Homo sapiens: one gene and its partners. The protein of the gene in region 1 interacts with the protein of each later gene in a biochemical or structural test. Each region holds a gene or a part of one and is shown in the gene's direction. Other genes may lie near its edges.

The links.
Region 2: the proteins of KLHL2 (region 1) and ACTC1 interact in far-western blotting, tested with the Homo sapiens proteins (one study listed by BioGRID).
Region 3: the proteins of KLHL2 (region 1) and WNK1 interact in a test that uses a peptide from one of them, tested with the Homo sapiens proteins (one study listed by BioGRID).
Region 4: the proteins of KLHL2 (region 1) and UCK1 form a complex in vitro, tested with the Homo sapiens proteins (one study listed by BioGRID).

Annotation. Positions count from the first base shown.
Region 1 is NC_000004.12:165,294,547-165,301,583, forward strand, and holds part of KLHL2 (kelch-like protein 2), read left to right. Parts: intron 1-3,062; coding exon 3,063-3,179; intron 3,180-4,960; coding exon 4,961-5,110; intron 5,111-7,037. UniProt on the Homo sapiens protein: Substrate-specific adapter of a BCR (BTB-CUL3-RBX1) E3 ubiquitin ligase complex that mediates the ubiquitination of target proteins, such as NPTXR, WNK1, WNK3 and WNK4, leading most often to their proteasomal degradation.
Region 2 is NC_000015.10:34,789,705-34,792,561, reverse strand, and holds the end of ACTC1 (actin, alpha cardiac muscle 1), read left to right. Parts: coding exon 1-154; intron 155-280; coding exon 281-472; intron 473-1,266; coding exon 1,267-1,448; intron 1,449-2,006; coding exon 2,007-2,150; 3' UTR 2,151-2,332; downstream 2,333-2,857. UniProt on the Homo sapiens protein: Actins are highly conserved proteins that are involved in various types of cell motility and are ubiquitously expressed in all eukaryotic cells.
Region 3 is NC_000012.12:755,572-762,608, forward strand, and holds part of WNK1 (serine/threonine-protein kinase WNK1), read left to right. Parts: intron 1-7,037. UniProt on the Homo sapiens protein: Serine/threonine-protein kinase component of the WNK1-SPAK/OSR1 kinase cascade, which acts as a key regulator of blood pressure and regulatory volume increase by promoting ion influx.
Region 4 is NC_000009.12:131,528,252-131,535,925, reverse strand, and holds the start of UCK1 (uridine-cytidine kinase 1), read left to right. Parts: upstream 1-4,662; 5' UTR 4,663-4,751; coding exon 4,752-4,859; intron 4,860-5,238; coding exon of another isoform or gene 5,239-5,280; coding exon 5,281-5,440; intron 5,441-6,341; coding exon 6,342-6,438; intron 6,439-6,655; coding exon 6,656-6,798; intron 6,799-6,887; coding exon 6,888-6,982; intron 6,983-7,674. UniProt on the Homo sapiens protein: Phosphorylates uridine and cytidine to uridine monophosphate and cytidine monophosphate. Does not phosphorylate deoxyribonucleosides or purine ribonucleosides. Can use ATP or GTP as a phosphate donor.

The DNA of each region.
Region 1 (7,037 bases):
TGTGATCCTGTATGTGTAGTGACAGCCAGTGATGTTTCAACTGGAAGTTAAGAAACTCAGCTAGTTACTTCAGGAAAGGATTCCAGGAGAAAAAAAAGAAACTCAGGACTTGTTGATTGTCTATGTAAATTACTCCCGGTCTTCACTTTGTGGGAGGTTCCCTAAATTTTTAGCCACTACAGTTTTGTACTTGACCTCCACAGCAAGAGCTTGCACACATTAGACTATCTGAAACAAATGCTTTTTTGGAAACTAGTTTCTTCCTACAACTCAATGCCTGTAGGAATTATGATGTGAACATAATATTTGTCACTAAATTAGTTTCCTTGTCTTCTGAGTTGAAAGAGGTTACCTAGGATGGCGAAGTTTTGGTAGTTCTAGACTGAACATTCTTGATTGTCACCTTCCTTTAGATTGATTTCCTGTGACATAATACCTCACCCCTGCCAGTCCGTTCAGCCTGCCTGCCTCCCTGACTCTCTCCCTCCCTGCCTCCCTCCCTCTCTGTGCAGCTACTGCTTCTGGTTGTAGTCTTTTGTCTCTCCACGTTTTGAATTACCTTTGTCAGCCACCTGCACTTTTCGTATAGTTGGAGAGAGAAGCTCCTTTTAGTGGGCTGTTTTTCCTTGGGTGGGTTTTGTAGCACACGGGAATCAGAGCACAAAAGCTGTGCTTAGAGGAAATGAAACTTGAGTTTCTCCTTTGTGTGCTTAGCATTTCAAGTTGTGTAAATTCTGATTCTCTTTCTCAAGGCTATTCATTTCACCTGGGGTTAAAGACACATTTACTCTAATATTTACAGTATTAAAAAATGTGAAAGCATTTGTGACATATATAATCTTAGCATCCTAGAAATACAGAGGAAGATGACATTACTTTCACACTTAATAGACATGTATTGAGTGCCTTCCATGTACCAGACACTGCCATGGGCTCCTAGAGAAGAGAAGATTAGCAGAATAGAATTTGTTACTCATAGACTAGTGGGACAGCCAGTAGAGTAAATAATTGATTACAGAATGCTGTAAAGGGTGCCTTAGGAGCATTTAACTTTTCCAGGAATGGGATAGGTATGGGGATGGTAGTTCAACTTGGTTCAGATGTATATTTCAAGTCTTTTAAAAATGAGTCTGAGTTTGCCAGAGAAATAGGGATGGGTGGGAATGCAGAGGGCATTCCAGGTAGAAGAAGCAGAATATACAAATGTAAAGAGATATGAAAGAGTAATTGTATTCAATGTGTTCAGTATGATGGGAGTTTAGAATATGAGACATTGGTGGAAGATAAAATTAGAAGATGATATAATAAAATATCTTCTCAGCTATGTTAAAGAAAATTAACTGTATTGTAGTGATGAGCCTTAAAAGGGTTTTAAGCCAGAGGAGAAAACCATGCCAAAACCTGCATTATAGAAATATCATGAGGGCTGTTCTGGTTTTCTGCTGCTACTCAAGTCATTGCCAAATGTAAAAGCATAAACAATAACCATTTTATGCTAACAATTCTATGGTCAGAATTCATGCAGAACAATAGGGACAGCTTGTCTCTGCTCCACAGTGTCTGAGACCTCGGCTAAGGTGACCCAGATGCCTGGAGATACCTGGCATGGTTCTACTGGAGCCATAGATCTGGAGCTTCAGTTCTTCTGCACATGGCATCTTATGGGTCTGTAATGTCCAAGGTGGCTCCTCCACCTACTTTTGTCTGGCTCCGGGGCTCCCGGTTGATTGGTCTCTCTCTAGGTCTCCCTCCTCTCCCCTCCTTTCTTCTCTGTAACTTGCATGGGTTTCTCATGGTGTGGTGGTTTCAAGTAGCCAGACTTCTTACATGACATTTGGCTTCCTTCAAATGAGCATTTCAAGAGAGCAGAGTAGAAGTAGTGAGGCTGCTTAAGACCTACCTTCAGAAATTGCACAGTGTCCCTTCCTCCGCACTCTACTGGTTAACAGGGCCAGCTTAGATTCAGTGTGGAGGGTTACTATATAAGGGTATGGATCTGGGAGATGTGGTTTATTAGGAGGCTATCTTTGGAGACTAGCTATCTGGTGGTGGTGGGCAGTATGGACCAAAAATGAGGTGAGGGCCAGATGAGAGGATGTTGAAGTCATACCAGTGAGCAGCAGGTTCCGATATGGGATGATAGAAGCAGGGGGGAGAGAAGACAGAACTGAGAAATATTAGATAGAATTGCCAGAAGGCCGACTATCTTGTTCACCTAATCTCTGGCACCTGGCACGTAGAGACACTTGATAAATACTTGTTGACAGAATGAATTAAAGAGGGGTGTTAATTTTAATGTGCATTATTTTTAGTTTCTTGCTTTTTTTTTTCAAACTTTGCAAAATGTTTTACTACCTCCATTCTGTTCATTCTTGTTATTTATTTGCAGAAATCAATAAAAGGTTGCCAAAATGTAAGCTGATCCACAAAGTATGAGAGAATTAGTTTCTTGCTTTATTCCTGGATCAAAATAACCTATTTTTGGTCTCAGTTATCCAATTGCATATTGTCAAACATTTCCTGCAAACCTTTAAAGATTATTAAGTGATATATTCATCAGTTGAGAAGAAAATTATGTAGACAAACAGTGTCTTCATATTAGCTTATTAGCTTTCTCACAATTATGTATTGTAAAAAATAATGCCCTTATTTTTTAATTTGTAAAAAAAAATTTCAAAATACTACATTTTAATATATTCTGCTATTACAGAGCTGAGTCGATCTATTGTACAAACCTTCGATTTATGTGTATGGTCTAACATTTGTTTGTAAACCTGAAGAAAAAGCCAAACATGAATTGTTTATAAGGATACATGATTTTCATTCCAGAATATCACTTTGCTTTATTATTTTGGGTAAATAAAAAAAAAAAGAACAGAAAAGAAATGGGGTGAATGGCTTTGTAAGTACATTGCAAGTCAGGATTTTGAAAACACTTGAGCTGTGAATTAAACTTGGATGTCTTAGCAAGAGTTATATATAAAATGTAGTCTCATATTTTATCCAGATGCCTTGATACACAACTCATTTCTTATTTTTTCTTCTCCTATATTTTCTGCAAGGTATTTGAAGCAGTAATAGCATGGGTGAACCATGACAAGGATGTGAGGCAAGAGTTTATGGCCCGACTGATGGAACATGTACGGTTACCTTTGCTTCCTCGGGAATATTTAGTTCAGGTAAATGCATATGCAAAACATATGAATCCACACAGCACTGTGTCACTGGCCTGACAGCATGTAGATCCCTATCAAGCAGTGATAAGAGCTGTAGAATGCAGATCTGTGGAGTACAGGACAGAAGACAGTAAAGGACCCCGCAGGCTGGAGTGCAGTGGCGTCATCTCGGCTCTCCGCAACCTCCACCTCCCGGGCTCAAGTGATTCTTGTACCTCTGCCTACTGAGTAGCTGGGACTACAGGTGCATGCTACAACCCCAGCTAATTTTTGTATTTTCAGTAGAGTTGGGGTTTTGCCCTGTTGGCCAGGCTGGTCTCGAACTCCTGACCTCAAGTGATCTACCCGCCTCGGCCTCCCAAACTACTGGGATTACAGGCCTTGTGAGGCACCACACCCAGCCACCATTCCCCGTTCTTAGAAATTTGCTTTTGCCCCTATTTTTGATTTGGGTAAGCAAGTACTAGAGCTTATCAAGGTAGTATTTGTGGTCACTTAAATACATGTAAATAAATGTCCCTGTGGCAGTCACTGCTTTGCATCTTCTTTACTGTTTTTTTCTTTCCATAGTCTCTTCTGATTCCCCTGCAGACCTGGAATTTTGAGGTCTGACCCAAATACCGTTTAATTTTACTTCGTAATTTAATAGTGGCATGCATTTGATTTCTGTCTTTATTTCTAAGCTGAGGGAAAACATTATTTGAAATAAATGTGAAAAATGATTCTTTAGTGGTCTCCAAATAATTTTAAATTTACTGTTTTTTTTATTAGAATCCCGCTAGGAACATTTCAGCATTATTTTAATAATTGAAACCATTGAAAGAATCATTTATTAAGAAATTAGATTTGAACATTTTAGGATTTCTTGAAATCTCATTACTTTTTGTGATCTGTGTAATCATGGGTCTTCTGGTATTAAGAAGATGATCCAAAAGGGTGGGTGCGGTCAGTGGCTCACGTCTATAATCCCAGCACTTAGGGAGGCGGAGGCAGGCATGAGGCCAGGAGTTCGAGACCAGCCTGGCTAACGTGGTGAATCCCCGTCTCTACTAAAAATACAAAAAATTAGCCAGACATGGTGGCAGGTGCCTGTAGTCCCAGCTACTCAAGAAGGTGAGGGAGGAGAATTGCTGGAACCCGGCAGGTGGAGTTTGCCAGGATTGTACCACTGAACTCCAGCCCGGGCAACAGAGTGAGACTCTGTTCCCTTCCCCCCGCCCCCCCTCCCCCCCCAGAAAAAAGAAAACGAACCCAGAAGCCTGTCCTGCGTTTGAGGTCAGGCTAGGCAGTACAAGATTTATTTGTGTTATGGGTACGTTGCTTTAAGGTATTTCTAATCTCTTTTTGGGATATTTTACTTGCCCACTTGTGTTTGAAAAAGGTATCATTAACTTATTAGTATTGTCTTCACCTGAAGGATGTATTATCTAAACTTTGTTTCTTGTTTTGCTTACTTTTTGTCTTAAAGGTTAAAGATACACAGGTGGATATAATATCCGAAGAGTTCATCATATTCCATAGCTAACATTGAAGTTTATCATTTTTCACTGTGGTTCTTCTTTTTATTACCTATATATGTTTTTCTCTGCAGGCCAGATACTTGAGCATTTTTTGGTTATATTTATTTTTCTCTTAGATGTATTTATAAACTTTCCTCGTTTATTTTTAGACTAAACTAAAGGATATAGTTACTGCTTTTTTCCTCTCCTTTACTTCTTTTTCTTTGGCAATTTAATTATGAAATAGCCCTACCCTCAGTGGGTGTGTCTGATTTCTTGTTACAGAGGGTTGAAGAGGAAGCATTGGTCAAGAATAGCAGTGCTTGCAAAGATTACCTCATTGAAGCAATGAAGTACCATTTGCTGCCAACAGAGCAGCGTATATTAATGAAGAGTGTCCGGACCCGGCTGAGGACACCCATGAACCTTCCCAAAGTAGGATCTGTTTCTCATGCTTGTTATTACCTCATGCAAAAGGCTTATAAGTGAAGCTGTTAGTATTTTGCTCATTTGAATTTCCGTGATTTATTGTTTTAGTTTTCCTTCAAGAGAAAATGTGCCTAAGAATGCATTGTAGTGTATGTAATTCAACCTCTATTGATTTTATATGTTAAGGGTGGGGATTCTTTGGTCCGTTTAATTTTTATAAACTGCATGATGTCACTCTTCTGGAACAGAAGACAACTGGTTTTTGTCCCCTCTGAGTTTTATTAGCTCTAATTATAGTAGAAAGCTCTAATTATAGTCCAAAAAAATCAGACCAGGTAGAAGGATTTCTCTGTAGGCCTGGGGTGCTGTGATTCATGCCTGTAATCCCAGCACTTTGTGAGACTGAGGCCAGTGGATCACCTGAGGTCAGGAGTTTGAGACCAGCCTGGCCATCTACGTGAAACCGTGTCTCTACTAAAAATACAAAAATTAGCCACGTGTGGTGGCAGGTGCCTGTAATCTCTGCTACTCAGGAGGCTGAGGCAGAGAATCACCTGAACCCAGGAGGCGGAGGTTGCAGTGAGCTGAGTGGAGTGCCCACTGCACTCCAGTCTGGGCAACAATGTGACAGGCTCTGTCTCAAAAAAAGAAAAAAAAAAAAAAAGAATTATTTTGTAAGCTAGGTGTTTGTTTAATAACTGAAAACCCAGTAGTTTCACAGAATTACACATTAGAACTACAGATGATAAAAATAGCTTGTTCAGTTCATCTCATTGCTGTTCCCTGCTGTATACCATTTGATGGTTCCCTGCACATCATATGTAGCCATTTCAGCATACATTCCCATGTCTTCCCGTGTGTCTCGTGTTCATATTTTCCTATGTGAATGTTTATATTCTACCTTGGTCTTTTTAGCTGTGGCCATTCATATTTTACCAATTCAATTTTTCTTATGAAATAACCCCTCATTTCTGTCTCTGTTGGCAATTCCTTCTGCTCTGTTTACATCTTTATAGTACGACCAATACTTTAAGCACCATTTTGTGCGTGGTCTAATCAGAATGACTCATAATATAAAGACTTTATTTATGTATTTATTTTTAACTCTTGTATATGTTTCGGGCAATGCTGGATTAAGAAATAAGAATCTGTTCTCTCGTTTTCTTATATCATCTTCAGTTATTACTCTGTCCTTTCCATTGAATTGTTTTTTAAATTCTTTCACTTTAATACTTTAATATTTTTCTAAGTTTTACTTTGGAGTCTACATTTTTAATTGCTGCAAATCTATATTGGTATTGTTTTTCTGTTTTGCCTATTACTAACAACAGTTCTCAATTTATAACTAACTGCAGATTTGCCAGGATGCTGTTGACTTATTTTTCTAGATCGTTAGCAAATATTTTAATTTAGAATTGATCTCAAAACTCTCTTGGTGGCACCTTGTTAGAAGTAGCCAGCCACTGACACAGTCTATTTGTGGAAAGTTTCATTCTATATGATTATTATCTAAGCCAAAATAAGTAGTTTGGCATATAACATCTGATGAGGTTGAGGATCAAATGGATTCAAATTTGGCATGACTTTTTAAACATTCTTCTGCATGGTATTTTATTGGCCCCTAGAAGTTCAAATGCTTTTCTCAAAATCTTCTAAATTTTTACTCAGAATTATCATCACTTAACAAAGTGTATTTACAAGGTATTCACTTCCTATCCTGGTTTGAAAATTTGGTATTTGCTTTCTTTAAATTTTCTGATCTATCCTCAGTTCTCTGAGATTTTTCAGAAATAATTGTAAGTGGCTCAGTAAGTACATTAGCTAGTTCCCTTAATACCTCAGTATTCATGCCAGGTCTGCTGATTTTATATGTGTTTACATTTTTCAAATACCCTTACACCTGCTTTTATAAGTACCCATCTTTTAAGTCTTC
Region 2 (2,857 bases), on another chromosome or scaffold:
CTGGACTCTGGGGATGGTGTAACTCACAATGTCCCCATCTATGAGGGCTACGCTTTGCCCCATGCCATCATGCGTCTGGATCTGGCTGGTCGGGACCTCACTGACTACCTCATGAAGATCCTCACTGAGCGTGGCTACTCCTTTGTCACCACTGGTGAGTGTGTGTGTCTCATCTGCCACAGTGTGGGTCTGCTTTCCTCCTCTCTCACTGAATCCGCCTACCTCCCTATAATTGACTTCTTGCTTCAGAGCATGACTGTGATACTCTTTATTTCTGTAGCTGAACGTGAAATTGTCCGTGACATTAAAGAGAAGCTGTGCTATGTCGCCCTGGATTTTGAGAATGAGATGGCCACAGCTGCCTCTTCCTCCTCCCTGGAGAAGAGCTATGAACTGCCTGATGGCCAAGTCATCACTATTGGCAATGAGCGCTTCCGCTGTCCTGAGACACTCTTCCAGCCCTCCTTCATTGGTGAGTTGTAGGGTCTGGTGCAGAGGCACGATTTTCCCTGGAAATCTTAGGGTCTCCCAGAGTAAAATCTAGAAGGCTCAAGAAGCCCTTGAGTTAAAAGAAGTCATAGTTTGGATTCCCACACAGCTCAACCTCAAGTCCTGATGGCTCATTAAAGGGGAAGTCTATGTTCTGCTCTAGTGATATAATAAAGGATGACACACTGAGTTCATCTCAAAATAAAGGATGACACAGAGTAGTAACTGAATAGCACGTATCTGCAGGAAAAGGGCTAGTTCACAAGAGCTGACTTATTCCCGTAAGTTTCACTACCAAGTAGCTGGACTTTCCAAGTTCCTCATCATTAAATGCAATAACATTCCTACTCATATTAATAACTGGGCACTTATATGTCAACAAATATCCTTCCTAAGCAATGCTTTCCATAAGGAACTTTGTCAGGATCTGATTTAAGTCCATAAACAAAAATTACATTCATTTTAGTTTAAACGTGTATCTTTTCCTTTTCCAATACATCTTCATACATCTGAGAGTTTCAGGAGGTGTTTACTTGAAACAGGTGCTAAGCACAGTTGCTCCTTTCTTGGCATTGTATTGTGGATTAACTGTGAGGCACCCATTCCACCCTGCAGTGTGTCTTATAGGGGAACATATGTTTCAGAGACAAATGGTGACAGCTCCCCCACACAAAGAAGTTCTGTTCTCTTCCCTCTACCTTGACCTGAATGCACTGTGATGTGTGTGTGTGTGTGTGTGTGTGTGTGTGTGTGTGTGTGTGTGTGACTCGTTCCCAGGTATGGAATCTGCTGGCATCCATGAAACAACTTACAATAGCATCATGAAGTGTGACATTGATATCCGCAAGGACCTGTATGCCAACAATGTCTTATCTGGAGGCACCACTATGTACCCTGGTATTGCTGATCGTATGCAGAAGGAAATCACTGCTCTGGCTCCTAGCACCATGAAGATTAAGGTAAAGAACTTTTGTGAGTGGGAGATCCGAGGCAAGTCTTGGTATTCTAAGCAGAACTACGTTCCAAATTCCTTTTCCCTCATACTCAGTTTCTTGTCTCCTACAAACTTTACCTGTTAGCTTTTCTACCACTTTTTCTGATTTTCTTAGCACTTTTCCCAAGATAGGTAACTTCCAAAATGCTTTTAAGCAGTGAATAAAAATAAATCTTTGACAAAAAAAAGACACACACACACGCAACAAAATCTTTGAATACATTTTTAAAGCTCCCAACTTTTGGGCTAGGCTCCACTACACATTTAGCTTGTTGCCAAATTACACTCTAGGTAAGTGGAGAAATTCCATTTTAATAATAGAATATATCTTTAATAATATAAATGATGAAATAGAGGTGAGTTCATATAACTTGATTGGCCACATTATTTCGTGGTATGACATATCCCACATTATAGCGAATTAATATCTAATGGTTTTTTTCTGTGAATCCTCCCAATGTGTTATTTGCTCCCTTGCTTGGAACTTCAGAGTTCACTGGAAGTTTTTGTTTTCTTTCTGCAGATTATTGCTCCCCCTGAGCGTAAATACTCTGTCTGGATTGGGGGCTCCATCCTGGCCTCTCTGTCCACCTTCCAGCAAATGTGGATTAGCAAGCAAGAGTACGATGAGGCAGGCCCATCCATTGTCCACCGCAAATGCTTCTAAGATGCCTTCTCTCTCCATCTACCTTCCAGTCAGGATGACGGTATTATGCTTCTTGGAGTCTTCCAAACCACCTTCCCTCATCTTTCATCAATCATTGTACAGTTTGTTTACACACGTGCAATTTGTTTGTGCTTCTAATATTTATTGCTTTATAAATAAACCAGACCAGGACTTGCAACCTATAAAAGCCTCTCGTTTGTTTTTGGGGTAGGCGTGGGGTGGGGCAGGTGTTTGCTTTGACACCCTGAGCATTGTCAAAGTTCAGTACCACAAGGTTCATCCAGATGAATTAATATGACAGTTAGCTGGGAGTTATAATGCTAACTTTTGATTTCATATTTTGAGACAGAATCATGAATATATTTCATACCTGAAAAGCAGATTAAGGTTTAGTTCCATATAAGTAAGAAATGAAATTGAATAAGATAGTTCTCTAGAATTAGTTGCTGCAGATGACACTGAAGATTATTTTAACATATGTTCCAGTTGTTTTTGTAACCTTGCAGAAAATACACATATATTGATAATGAGAAAGTCAAAGATTATTTTAAATGAATTGGCTTAACTTTTCAATTCTTTGAACTCTTCAATTTTCTTCCTGGGGGCTATGAAAGAAACATGAAGGTTAGCTGACAGTTGGGCCAGCCACATCCCATTGCAAATACCCTCTAAACATATCAAGACCATTGTGTGTGTGCAAAACAAAT
Region 3 (7,037 bases), on another chromosome or scaffold:
TAAAACTACTCATTAATTTTATAGTATTTTAGAATTGAAAAGGTGACAGATCTTTAAAAAAAAAAAACCTCGTCAAACGAAAACTGTTCATTTTGGTCAGTCATATTCAAAAAACTTAGTCTGGGCCAGGCACGGTGGCTCACGCCTGTAATCCCAGCACTTTGGGAGGCCAAGGCGGGTGGATCACGGGGTTAGGAGTTCGAGACCAGCCTGACCAACATGGGGAAACCCCGACTCTACTAAAAATACAAAAATTAGCCGGGTATGGTGGCGCGCGCCTGTAATTCCAACTACTCGGGAGGCTGAGGCAGGAGAATATCTTGAACCCAGCAGGTGGAGGTTGCAGTGAGCGGAGATCGCACCATCGCACTGCAGCGTGGTGACAGAGCGAGACTCCGTCTCAAAAACAAACAAAAACAACAACAACAAAAAAACTTATGTCCGATTCCTTTTGGTTTACAGGCAGAAATTTACAGGTAGACACATTTCTTTCTTGTACTATCGATGCTTATTGATACTGATGCTGGAATTTTATTCTTCCATTATAGTTTTATATTTGAATAGGTGCTTTTTAACAATTTTGTTTTCCTTAACCGGTTACCTTACTTTTTTAAGACTGGACCCAATTACTTGTTGAGCACTTTATGAATTAATTTTGTTAGTTTTAATTATTTCACTTCTGAGACTTCTTAGCATGTGATGTGTGTTTTCCTTTTATCACCTGGAATTTTCTGATACTTTATTATCTTGGAACTGATAATACAGTGAAAAAAACTTAATTTGTCTAATGTCACGATAAAAACTTTGTCCAAGCTTCTCAGGTTTTCTTAGAACTCGTAACTTTTTGGATTTTTAATTCTCTATCTAGGCATGGGCATTACCAAACTAAAGAAAATCTTACATCGCATATTATTTTTGAGTCATTTCAGGATTTGGCTGCAGAACTAGATGAATCCTAGCTTATTAAGTGGTACCTGGTTTAGAAACTTCCATGTTATTTGTCTGTGCTTCTGTAATTTTTTGTTTTGATTTTGAAAAGATTATCTTACCTGAAAAATCCTTTATAGCAGTAGTTAGGCAGTATTTTTGGTTTTTTGACCAGGACACTTGCACTACATGCCTAATAAAATATTCAGTGGGTCAGTGTTTGAACTTTTATCTTTGGAGCCAAATTAAAGGACAAGCCAAGGGATTACTAAAGCACTGGAAAGATAGAAACTTTTTCGCTAAATCTATCCTTTTAATATACATATATTTCTGAAGCAAGACAGGAGAATATTGAGTTAAGTTGTTGAGTTAAAAATCTTAGTGTATTGAAACTGGGAGAAATCTTAGGTTATTCTGCCCAGCTATTTATTTGACAAATAAGGAACCTGAAATCATAGAGCAGGTAAATAACTTGATTAGGTAGATGAAGAACAAAAGCTAGTTAGGATCTAATAATTTGGGAGATGACAAAGCATTTGTAGTCCAGTAGATGGCTAATAAGTCATTTCAAATGAAGCAATATTGTGTTGGTGTGGAAGTGGCTGTTGGATTTCTGGAGAAACCCGGTCCTTATACCCATGGCAAATTTCAGGCTTCTGTTTTGGGTGTTGATTTTTATCACTTCAAATTGAGATATAAATAGGCTTTTGTGGATGGGTCAATATGGTATACAAATCAAGCTATTTTCTGTCATGCTAATTTTTTTAGAGTCATGCTATGCATTGCTCTTTAGTAAAACAAGCATCAATTCTTTTTTTTTTTTTTTTTTTTTTTTAAAAAAAAAAAGAGACGGAGTCTTGCTCTATCTCCAGGCTAGAGTGCAGTGGCGCAATCTGAGCTCACTGCAACCTCCGCCTCCTGGGTTCAAGCGATTCTCCTGCCTCAGCCTCCCAAGTAGCTGGGAGTACAGGCGCACCCCACCACACCCAGCTAATTACAAGCATCAATTCTTAGTAAATAATGCCTAGGTAATATTTTGATACCACAGGACCTTCAGTAATTACCGAGATGTTTAAGATGCAGATTTCTTTAACTGGTTTTATTAGACAAGTAGTGCACCTTAATTTTAATATTTGGTTGTCTTGGTCAGAAAATATTACTGTTGGGCTCTATCTGCAGAGTTTACATTGCTTTTCTAGAAAGGGATCTGGTTTTTCAAAAAAGATAGCATAATTTCCTTTAAGAAAACATTGATGGAGCCGGGTGCGGTGGCTCACGCCTGTAATCCCAGCACTTTGGGAGGCCGAGGCGGGTGGATCACGCGGTCAGGAGTTCGAGAACAGCCTGGCCAACATGGCGAAACCCCATCTCTACTAAAAATACAAAAATTAGCTGGGCGTGGTCCGCACGCCTGTAATCCCAGCTACTCGAGAGGCTGAGGCAGGAGAATTGTTTGAACCCGGGAGGCAGAGGTTGCAGTGAGTCGAGATCGCACCACTGCACTCCAGCCTGGGTGACAGGGTGAGACTCTGTCTCTAAAAAAAAAAAAAAAAAAAGAAAGAAAGAAAAAGAAAACATTGATGCACAGATTTAAGAATGATTTATTTTAAGCACCTTCCCAAGTTGCCTCTGAAGAGTTCACATGATGCGTTATATGTTGATGAGATTGTTTCCACATCTACCTGAAAAGAGAGGTTAAATCATATTTTTGTTGAAGCTCCAATATACTTAACTGCTTATTTTTCTCTGTCTTTTATTAAGACTGTGTGTCATGAGTACATGACATTAATATTTTGTGAATAGTATAGCAGTGTTACAGAAATGGGATGTGGTTCTGTGATTAAGAAACCATCATTTATTTCTTTGCTATAGTTCTTTTTTTTTTTTTTTTTTTTTTTTTGAGACGGAGTCTCGCTCTGTCGCCCAGGCCGGACTGCGGACTGCAGTGGCGCAATCTCGGCTCACTGCAAGCTCCACTTCCTGGGTTCACGCCATTCTCCTGCCTCAGCCTCCCGAGTAGCTGGGACTACAGGCGCCCGCCACCGTGCCCGGCTAATTTTTTGTATTTTTAGTAGAGACGGGGTTTCACCTTGTTAGCCAGGATGGTCTGCTATAGTTCTTAAAATATCTAATTGAACTGAATCTCTCTATTTGAATGTTGGTGATTTTTTCCCTCTTATCTTTTAAATTTGTGCCACATTCCTTATTTTTTAGGATGAGAATCAGCGTAACTTTCCGTCTCAGGGAATAGTTTTTGGAGTTTGTTCTTAAATCCTCAAAGTCACCGATTAGGAGTATTGGCAAATTTTTTTCTCTTACCTTTTTTCTGACCCGTAGTAACACAGTCTGAGAAGTAATCTAAAAACCTGGAAAGAGGTTGTTTTTGTGTAAAACAAACCAGGAATCTATTGTTGCTTTGTGACAATTCATTTCTTGACATTCAAATTCTGATGCAAGAGCCTAGTCATTTAAAATTTATCTTATTCCACCAGCAGCTTATCAAAGAATTTCAAAAAATAAAAAATATATGTATATAAATATAAATAAAATTCATCTTAGTTCATCCCTATGGAAACATTCAACTAAAACTGGGCTCTCATTTTCAGAAATCATCCTAAACCTGTTATTTGGGTTTTCTGGTAGTTTTTACATTTTTTTAGATAAAGCTGTAAAAGCAGCAAGAGTAGCTGTACTCAATTATCATTTCTGAAAATATTTAGCATACTATGAAATAATTCATAATTACCGTTAGTACACCTTTGCTATACCAGTTCTTTAAATTATATTGATAATTTAAATTATATATTTAGTAACTTGCATTTTGTTTGAGTTTTTTGTTTTTTTGTTTTTGAGACAGAGTCTCACTCTGTCGCCCAGGCTGGAGTACAGTGGCGCGATCTCGGCTCACTGCAACCTCCACCTCCCGGGTTCCAGCAATGCTCCTGCCTCAGCCCCCTGAGTAGCTGGGATTACAGGCGAGCGCCACCACGCCCGGCTAATTTTTGTATTTTTAGTAGAGATGGGGTTTCACCATGTTGGCCAGGCTGGTCTTGAACACCTGACCTCGTGATCTGCCCGCCTTGGCCTCCCAAAGTCCTGGGATTACAGGCTTGAGCCACCATGCTCAGCCGTTTTGTTTTGTTTTAAAACCTGGTCTGCAGGAATAGGTGAGACTTAGCATGACCTCAGTTTATGTTTGAAGAGGCCATTTTTCTGCCTTGTAACATAGTAGTTAAGAACTAGATTGCCTGGGCTCAAATCAAGGCTCAGCTACATAATTGTGTCACCTTGAGCAAGTTTTGTGCTACAGTTTCCTGTCTGTAAAATGGGTGTAAAAAAGAGTACCCATTTTATAGAGTTGTGCTGATTAAATGAATGAACATATATAAAACATGTAGGATAGGGCCTGCCACATAAATATTAACTGTGATGATGCAGCATCTTTTTTAGGTTGTCCTTTTGAGGGAATCTGTGAAGATTTTGTTTGTTTATATTTATGCTTGAAAAATCATATAGCAAAACTTAACTACTGTTCTTGGAGGAGGAGGAAAGCAGGTATTGATCTTTATGTTACTGGTGCTTTTAAATTCCTTAGCTCTACCTGGCCTTTGCCTAACATTTTAATTTTGTGACCCATCACCCAAATGCCAATCTTTCTGAACTGCTTATTTTCAGAATCTGCTAAGATCCTTGTCTCATCTTTGCATGTATCTAGAAAGCATATTTTCTTTTGGTGGATCTCATATATAATTCTTATAGTATTTATTTATCATATTGAAATTGTTTATATATTTTGTCTAATCCATTAGTCTTTGGAAAGTTCACTATGGTGTAATAGAATACTATACAATGAAAAGGAGCACCAAGGCAGAACCCTTGAGTTCTAGATTACCCAATTTTCTGAGCTTTGAGTAAGGAACTTAATCTATAATGCTCATTTATTAGCAATATGTCTTACTGATTTAGGATTGTTGAAGATCCACTGAAATACTATGTGAATGTACTTTGAAAAATGTTAAGTGTTATATAAAATATAACAGAATACTTAAATATTCATTTAGAAGGCTATAAATTGTCACCTATTACAAATGGAATATATTAAACTTAGTTGGATTTTAGGAGCTTTTTGCTTTGTCAACTTAATTTCTCAAATCTTAACAGGGGAGCTTTTCAGTTTGAAGAAACATTGTCAGAAGCTCTTAATATTTTATTTGGAAGATGATTATGCCTTTGACAGGTAGCAGGCTTAATTTTATATGTAGTTTTTTTTTTATTGTTGTTGTTTTTGATGGGGTCTTGCTCTGTCGCCCAGGCTGGAGTGCAGTGGCGTGATCTTGGGATCTTGGCTCACTGAAACCTCCACCTCCTGTGTTCAAGCGATTCTCCTGCCTCAGCCTCCAGAGTAGCTGGGATTACAGGCACCCACAACCACACCCGGCTAATTTTTTTTTTTTTTTTGTATTTTTAATAGAGACAGAGTTTCACCGTGTTGGACAGGCTGGTCTCAAACTCCTGACCTCAGGTGATCCACCTGCCTTGGCCTCTTAAAGTGCTGGGATTACAGGCATGAGCCGCCGTTCCTGGTCTATATGTAGTTTTTAAAAGATTGGTTATTTGTGATTTTTACATAAGAGGAAAAGCATCAGTAAGCTGTGGTTTTGTGGCCAACTTAATTGATCATATAATATCTCCACCTTCACTTACATTAATTTAGATTTTTCAGGTGGGGTTTCATAAATAATTTACTTTTTAGTGTTGTGACTTGAATCTTGGCTTTGCCAAATTACCATATTAAATACATTATGCTAAATGAATATGTTGGAATGATTTTTTAGAAGAGTCCTCAGATAAGCTGTTAGTCATAACAAGCAAATAATTTTCTCAGGAATGTAAGAATTCTTAAGAATTTTAACAGTTTGAATTTAAGAGTGTTTGGAAATTTGCTTGTTGTAATCATCATACTCAGGTTAGTTAAGAAAAACCACAGTCATTCCTGCAGATACCTTTTGTGCAGCTGAGGTTCAGCTTCTCAGAGACAATATTATTTTTGTCAGTAGATACGTGGTAGATGGTCTAGTTAACCAAACACACACTAATGTATAAACCAAACAGTGAGAGATGAAATTAATTAGTGAATCAAATGATTAATGTGCACATTCTCTGTTACTAGATAGAGATTAACAGATTTCTTGGGATAAGATCATTTTCATGGCTAAGAGTTTTGAGCTACATAACCTGATATATCTATCTTTATGTGGATCATCTCCTTCCATGGACTGGTAGATTATTGTGGATTAAGGTAAATCGGGAAATGCAACAGATTTATCTCTTTAACATGCTAAAGAGTTACTAGATATCATTGTCATATTAAAATGTTCTTTGAACTCTCCATATTGCCCCTCTCACACACAGTCATCCGTCAGTATACACAGGAGATTGGTTCCAGACAGCCCCCACCCCAGGGTACCAAAATTCACAAATGCACAAGTCTCTTAAATAAAATGGTGTATTTTCATATAACCTACAGTAGTACATCCTCCTGTATAGTTTATTTTTTAATTTAATTTTTTTTTTTTTTTGAGGCTGAGTCTTGCTCTGTTGCCCAGGCTGGAGTACAGTGGCACAATCTCAGCTCACTGCTACCTCTGCCTCCTGGGTTCAAGCGATTGTCATGCCTCAGCCTCCCGAGTAGCTGGGATTACAGGCACATGCTACCATGCCCAACTAATTTTTGTATTTTTAGTAGAGATGGGGTTTCATCACGTTGGCCAGGCTGGTCTCGAACTCCTGACCTCAAGTGATCCATCTGCCTCTGCCTCCCAAAACGCTGGGATTACAGGTGTGGCTCCTCACGTATAGTTTAAGTCATCACTAAATTACTTATAATACCTAATACAATGTAAGTGCTATGTAAATAGTTTTTATACTGTAGTGTTTTAAAATTCATGTTGTTTTTTATTATTGTGTTTTGTTATTGTTTTTTCCCCCAATATTTTCATCTGCAGTTAGTTGAATCCATGGATGCAGAACATGTGGATATGGAACCTGAGGATGTGGAGGGCGGACTGTTCTTATGTGTAGAAAGTAGAGAGTAACTGAAGAGTTGAGTT
Region 4 (7,674 bases), on another chromosome or scaffold:
CGTTTACCCAGAGTTCGAGTGCTGCACTGGTTTCTCTAGTTTCACAAAAGGGCAACTCATCTTGGGCTCCAGCTGTCTGCAGAGGGCCAGTTCCAGAACCTCCTGCTGTGTGTGAAGCTGCGGCTTTGACTCCCACCCCTAAGACATACCTGGTCCTGGACCCTTTATAGGCAACTCAGCTTCAAACCACTGGCTATGGGACCTTCTTCATTCCAAGAGCCTGGCTGTCATGTTTCCCCGTCTTGTCTTTGAGCAGGGAGATGGTGCAGTTCTGTGTGTGTGTCGAGTGTGTATATGTGAATATGTGCGTTGGCTTCCTACACCTGCTGTCTCAGCCAACTTGACGGAGGTCTCTTGCAGCTGCAAGCCTTGGGCAAGCCACATAATCACTCTGTTTCTCAATTTACCCATCAGGAAAATGGTATCACAATGGTACCCATATCGCAGGGTGGCTGTGAGGCTTTAATGCTATTTAAGATATGCAACTGGCCGGGCACGGTGGCTCAGGCCTGTAATCCTAGCACTCTGGGAAGCCGAGGCAGGAGGATCACCTGAGGGTCAGGAGTTTGAGACCAGCCTGGCCAACATGGTGAAACCCCATCTCTACTAAAAATACAATATTAGCCGGGCGTGGTGGCAGGCGCCTGTAATCCCAGCTATTCAGGAGGCTGAGGCAGGCGAATCACTTGAACCTGGGAGGTGGAGGTTGCAGTGAGCCAATATCGCGCCACTGCACTTCAGCCTGGGAGACAAAGTGAGATTCCGTCTCGAAAAACAAACAAACAAAAAAAAAACCCACACCACCAAACCTTGTTTAGCCTCTCGTTCCGTTATCTAGAACAGCCATGTCAGACCAGAAGGGCACACCCCAGAACTCAAAACCATGCTTTTCCCTGGGTGAGGAGTAAGGGGTGGTTCTAGTTTTGGTTGTGTGTTTGTGTGTATACATTTTCTGCAATCAGCAGGAGTCACTTTTATGATTACAGGGAAAAGGGCAATCAATACTTAAAACAGCAGGCACCTGCTTATCTCTTTAAGCGCTGAGAGCCAGCTAGTGTTCAATAAAAGCTTCAGGACATGCTTGGCATGAGCTGACATTTTTGTAGTGGTTAGGGTGGCTTGAAGGAGGAGGGAGGAGGGCAGCCATGGAGAGCGGTGTTTCCTGTACTGCATGTGTTTGAGGGGGCAGGGGGAGCAGTTTTAGATTCACAGAAAAATTGAGCAGAAGGTGCAGAGATTTCCTATATACTCCCCACTCCCCCACATGCACAGCCTCCCCGATTTTCAACATCCCGCACCAGAGAGCAGGTAAGAGAATGAATCCAGAGTAGACAGTGGTCACTCTTAGGAGTACTGCCTTGCCTGGCTCTGGGAAACCCAAACTCCGAGGGCTCCAAGCCTCCACCCAACTCTCCACCTACCCCCACCCCCCAATTCAGCAACAACGTTTTTTTGTTTTTTTTTTTTTTTTTGGAGACAGGGTCTCGCTCTGTTACCCAGGCTGTAGCGCAGCGGCGCGATTTCTCTTCAATGCAACCTCTGCCTCCCAAGCTCAAGCAATCCTCCCATCTCAGCCTCCCCAGTAGCTGGGACCACAGGCCTATGCCACCACACTCAGCTAGTTTTTATTTTTTTCTTTTTTTGCAGACAGAAAAAAAAGTGCAGTGGCACGATCTCAGCTCATTGCAACCTCTGCCTCCTGGGTTCAAGTTCTCCTGCCTCAGCCTCCTGAGTAGCTGTGATTACAGGCGCATGCCAACATGCTCGGCTTATTTATTTACTTATTTATTTATTTATTTTTGCCCAGGCTGCAGTGCAGTGGCGTGATCTCGGCTCACTGCAATCTCCGCCTCCCAGGTTCAAGCGATTCTCCTGCCTCAGCCTCCCGAGTAGCTGGGATTACAGGCGCCCGCCACTGTGCTCAGCTAATTTTTTGTATTTTTAGTAGAGACGGGGTTTCACTATGTTGGCCAGGCTAGTCTTGAACTCCTGACCTCGTGAGTCGCCTGCCTCAGCCTCCCAGAGTGCCGGGATTACAGGCGTGAGCCACCGTGCCCGGCCAATTTTTGTATTTTTAGTAGAGATGGAGTTTCACCATGTTGGCCAGGCTGGTCTCGAACTCCTGACCTCAAGTGATCCGCCTGCCTCGGCCTCCCAGAGTGCTGGGATTACAGGCGTGAACCACTGCACCCGGCTGACTCATGCTTCTTTAAGGACACTCTTCGGCTGGGCACAGAGGCTCACACCTGTAATCCCAGCACTTTGGGAGGCTGAGGCAGGTGAATAGGAGTTCGAGACCAGCCTGGGCAACATGGCAAAACCCTGTCTCTATACTAAAAATACAAAAATTAGTCGGGCCTGGTGGCAGGTGCCTGTAGTCCCAGCTACTCGGGGAGGCTGAGGCAGGATAATTGCTTGAACTCGGGAGGCGGAGGTTGCGGTAAGCCAAGATTATGCCACTGCACTCCAGCCTGGGCAACAGAGCAAGATTCCGTCTCAAAACGAACAAAAAAAACCCATAAAAGTCACTCTTCTTCACAATATGGGGAGTTGGGGACCAGCTAGAGGTTTGGGGCTGGCCCTCTGCTTGGTGGTGGTTGGGATGGTCCCATAGGGGAGCCACTGTGGCCCAGAGGCCTGAGCCGTGTGGGCCCGGGCCTTGTTTACTGGACTGTGGGCTTCCTGGGTGCTGGGCCTGCTCCCAGGGAGTGGCTCCTTCCCAAAGCGTCCCTTTGCCTTGGGAGCGGAACCACGCAATAGCCTGACTGGCCCTGGCAGCCCATGCCTTGTGGCCAGTCACCAGAGAGGGCACACGAGACCCAGGCCAGGGGTATCAGGGACAGCCCCTGGTCAGACTCTGCTAGTTTCCCTGCCTTTCGCTACGTGGCTGGACCACAGGGGAAGAAATGGCAAGAAACCGTGTCTAACTCTCCCTTGATACAAATTCAAAGTTGGCTTGGGGGATGGCCACCTTTGGGACACACACCTGGACAGATCTAAGCCAGCAGCGTGGCTGTTTGCTAGGCACTGTTCTGTGCCTGGGGCTTAATTTACAGAGGTACGGCTGAATGACCATGAGGAGAGGCCAAAGCCATCGCAAGATTGATCGCATTTCCTGAGAGAAGGGGCACCCATGCCATGCACGGTTCTCAGTAGAGAACCCCAGGTTTGGTCAGGAGGCAGAAGCAGGGGCGAGGGGAGAGCCCAGGCCTGAGGCTTTCTTGGGGTTTCCATGGAAAAGGCCTGGCAGGGCAGGGAAAGAGTTTAAAATTGGCTAGTTTGAGTAATTCTAGCAGGCTCTGGGCTGCAGAGTGGTCTCTAGTCACCTGATACCTGGCCCTGGGTGACTTAGGGCAGGGAGAATCTTGCCTCCAAAGGCGAGAATTAGATAAGGAGGTAGCTGGGGCTGTAGACTTGGGGTCTTTTTTTTTTTTTTTTTTTTTTTTGAGACAGAGTCTCACTCTTTCCCCCAGGCCGGAGTGCAGTAGCGTGATCTTGGCTCACTGCAAGCTCCACCTCCCGGGTTCACACCATTCTCCTGCCTCAGCCTCCCGAGTAGCTGGGACCACAGGCGCCCGCCACCATGCCCGGCTAATTTTTTGTATTTTTAGTAGAGACGGGGTTTCACCATGTTAGCCAGGATGGTCTCGATCTCCTGACCTCGTGATCCACCCGCCTCGGCCTCCCAAAGTGCTGGGATTACAGGTGTGAGCCACCGCGTCCGCCCGGGGTTGTCTGTTTTGTATATGAAAAGCATGCTCTGCCCCGAGCCTTAGCTATCTCTCTCTCTTTTTTATTTTTGAGACGGAGTCTTGCTCTGTGGCCCAGGCTGGAGTGCAGTGGCACCATCTCGGCTCACTGCAACCTCCACCTCCCGGGTTCAAGCGATTCTCCTGCCTCAGCCTCCCAAGTAGCTGGGATTACAGGCGCCCGCCACCACGCCCAGCTGATTTGTTGCATTTTTAGTAGAGGCGGGGTTTCACCGTGTTCGCCAGGATGGTCTCGATCTCCTGACCTCGTGATCTACCCGCCTCAGCCTCCAAAAGTGTTGGGATTACAGGCGTGAGCCACCGCGCCCGGCTGGAAATCCATAATTTCAATGGATCAGAATTTGCCTGTCACGTTCTCTGTGCCAGGCACGGAGCGGGGGGGCGGCAGGGATGGAACCCGGCACATGGGCCTCTGCCTCCTTGGCGCGCTGTAGGCGCGAGCCTAAAGTCATCAGGCGACAGCCCCCGCCACGTTCCGGGGCGCCCCGACGGCTCCAGCAGCGGGTGGGGTGGGAGGCGTCCGGACAGTCCGGAGGCCTCGATGGCCAAGAGGAGCCTGGGCTGGAGGGGGCCAGGCCCGGGGGCGGCCGGGGGAGGGCCCGGGACTGGCGCAGAGGCAGCGCGAGGCAGAGGCAAGCACTCGGACGAAGGCGCAGCCCCAGCCTCGGGGTGCGGAACGGGCACCTTCCGGGCCACTTGAGTCTGAGACCTTGTAGCCGGCTCGAGGCCCGGGCGCAGCAGTCCCTGCCAGCCAGCTTTCGGCGCAATGGGACGCGGGCGCTCCTGGTGTGCCGGCCTCGGGCCCTGCACCCTCACGCATGCGCGGCCCCCCCCCCCCCGGTGGACTACAACTCCCGGCGTGCCCCGCGCGCCTCCCGGAAGTGATCGCTCCGGTTGCCTCCGACCTCGGCGCTGGGCGGGCGCGCCGGGCCTGGGGAAGGGGCGGGCGCGGGGACCCGATGCGCGGGAGCGGAGGCCGAGATGGCTTCGGCGGGAGGCGAAGACTGCGAGAGCCCCGCGCCGGAGGCCGACCGTCCGCACCAGCGGCCCTTCCTGATAGGGGTGAGCGGCGGCACTGCCAGCGGGAAGGTAAGGGGCCGAGCGGGCCGGGGTCTCGCCTCTCGCCGGTGCCTACGGGCGGCCCGGTCCAGAGAGGAGACCCCAGCCCCGGCCGAGGGGCCCCCTGCCAGGCAGGGGCAGGGCGCGGGAGCGAAGGGGCTGCAGGCCGCGATGGGCCGGGGCGGGCTGGGGCGGGCGAGGGGTTGGGGCGCTGGGCCTCGGGGCTCCCCCACAGCCTCTCCGCCGGCCGGGCTCCTCGGAGCCCCAAGTCCGTGCTAACCCCGTTGGGCCCCCGCGGCCCTTCCGCTGAGACCATCCACACCTGTTGGTGTCCTCCCGCCTTCCGAGCATACCCCCCAGGGGGCGGGTGGGTCAGTGTCTCCAGAAGCCGGCCCCGTGCCTGTCACAGGACGAGCGGTTCCAGGCGGGAATCCCGCTTCTGTGTCTCCAGTCGACCGTGTGTGAGAAGATCATGGAGTTGCTGGGACAGAACGAGGTGGAACAGCGGCAGCGGAAGGTGGTCATCCTGAGCCAGGACAGGTTCTACAAGGTCCTGACGGCAGAGCAGAAGGCCAAGGCCTTGAAAGGACAGTACAATTTTGACCATCCAGGTAAATCGCGAGCCCAACGATGTGGGGAGGGCAGACCCCATTCTGGGCGGCCGCTAACCAGCTGCGCTTGGGCCCAAGGTTGGATGGATGCAGACCCGCTTGGGCTGTTCCCCCAACTCGCCACGCAGCCTGCAGTGGAGTTGGCTGCACAGTGAAGTCAGGGGAACTTTGCTGAGTTCTCTGGGCCCTGAGTGTCCCCCCAGGAGCGTGGTTGGAGCCAGTCAGGAAGCCTGTTGCACTGTGGGGAGCCCTGCCCTGCCCTGCCACAACTGTGATCCTGGAGAAATCCTCCCATCTTCCCTTCCCACGTTGGGGCCTTTAGGGCCCTCCACACACACCTCTGCCCACTGTGCCCTCCCGTGCTTTGGGGCAAAGTCCTCAGAGAGGCCAGTGTGGGAGGCGGTAGGTAAACTAGTGCTGGTGGCTTGAAGCTCCGGGCCAGGTAAACGGGCAGATGCGGCAGGGAGACACCTGCCACTGCTAGAAGATTCCACCCTGGCTGGCTGGCATGGTCAGCCTTTTCCCAAGGACTTGTGGGAAGAAGGCCTGCAAAGCCGCAGTCTAACCAGTTAGTCCCAGAAAGAGAGAGAAGCAGAGGCCCAGCCTACCCACCTCCCAGGAAGAGCTGATCAGAAAACCCCTGTGTTCCGGCATCTCAGGGGCACAGAGCTTGGGCAGTGGCACAGCCCGAGAACAGCAAGGACAGGGTCATCCTGTGGTCTGCAGGGCTGCAGAGGGCACTGTTGCTACCAAACATACACTGCCGTAGTCCTAGTCTACCTGTGCTAGGGTTCTCGGTGTCCCCAGCACCCAGCTGTGCTGACCCCAGAGCAGAGAGGGTTCCCTGCTGTCCGCTGCACGAGGGCATCTGCCTGTCTTGCCTTTGTCTCCAACCCTGCAGATGCCTTTGATAATGATTTGATGCACAGGACTCTGAAGAACATCGTGGAGGGCAAAACGGTGGAGGTGCCGACCTATGATTTTGTGACACACTCAAGGTAAGCAGGTGGTTCTAGGGAGGGCCGAGGAGAGGGGCCAGCTAGGACGTCCCCTCGGGCTCACACAGACCTGCCTGGCGGCAGGCCTCCCCCGGTTGGTTTCTGTGGGTCCCCCACCCCTTCCCACAGTCAGTGTCCCTGCAATGGAAGCTGACTGTGTGTGTGGCCTGGAGACCCTGTGTCTGCAGCAGAGCCCCTTTCCCCGTGCGCCCCTCAGGTTACCAGAGACCACGGTGGTCTACCCTGCGGACGTGGTTCTGTTTGAGGGCATCTTGGTGTTCTACAGCCAGGAGATCCGGGACATGTTCCACCTGCGCCTCTTCGTGGACACCGACTCCGACGTCAGGCTGTCTCGAAGAGGTAAGGCGGCCGCGGGCCTCCGTGCCTGCCTGGCCGAGGCTGGCGGCAGGTCCTGAGGTCTGAAGCACGCCTGCCCCTTGCCGCTGCAGTTCTCCGGGACGTGCGCCGAGGGAGGGACCTGGAGCAGATTCTGACGCAGTACACCACCTTCGTGAAGCCGGCCTTCGAGGAGTTCTGCCTGCCGGTACCTGTGCTCGCTGCTTCAGAGCCCATTTTCCCCTTTCACAAGGACACATGGGACCCAGTACTGTGAGAGGGCTTAGTGCTGGGTGACAGTGATCTGATTGAAAAAAAGGAGAAGAATTTGGCTCATTATGGCCACATACCCTGGGAGTAGTTCTCAGCTGTAAAAACATTCTCTGTGCCTGCTCCTCCCTCTGCCTAAAAAAGCCCCATATCTCCCCCACATTCACACTGGCCGCTTCCTCCCTGCCTCAGGCCCTTGCCCAGCGTCCCCATTCAACACTGAAAACCCTCTGCACCCAGCGCCAGCCTCTCTGCCTGCTTCCTTTTTCCGGGGCACTTACCATCATCTGACACGTCCTGGGTGCTTATTCCCCGCAGAGTGGGGAAGCCCAGGAGCACTTTAGTCTGTTCACTGCCAAGGCCGGGATCTGGCCCTCAGAAGGTGCTTCAGAGCTGCTCCTCCAGGGTCTGTGACCCCAGGCTGCTCTGGGCCAGTGCTCTGAAATCTTGGAGTGAGCGCTGTGCCCAGATCCCAGCTGGCTCGCAGAGAGCAGGAACTCCCCGCTGCACACCCACCTGTCTTTTCTCCATTTCTCCATCTTGTGTTTCTGGCTTGGTGGGACTCGTGGCTCTACTCAAATGGGAGTGTTTTGCACGGGAACATTTTGCCTGTTAAGGTAAAAATACAGC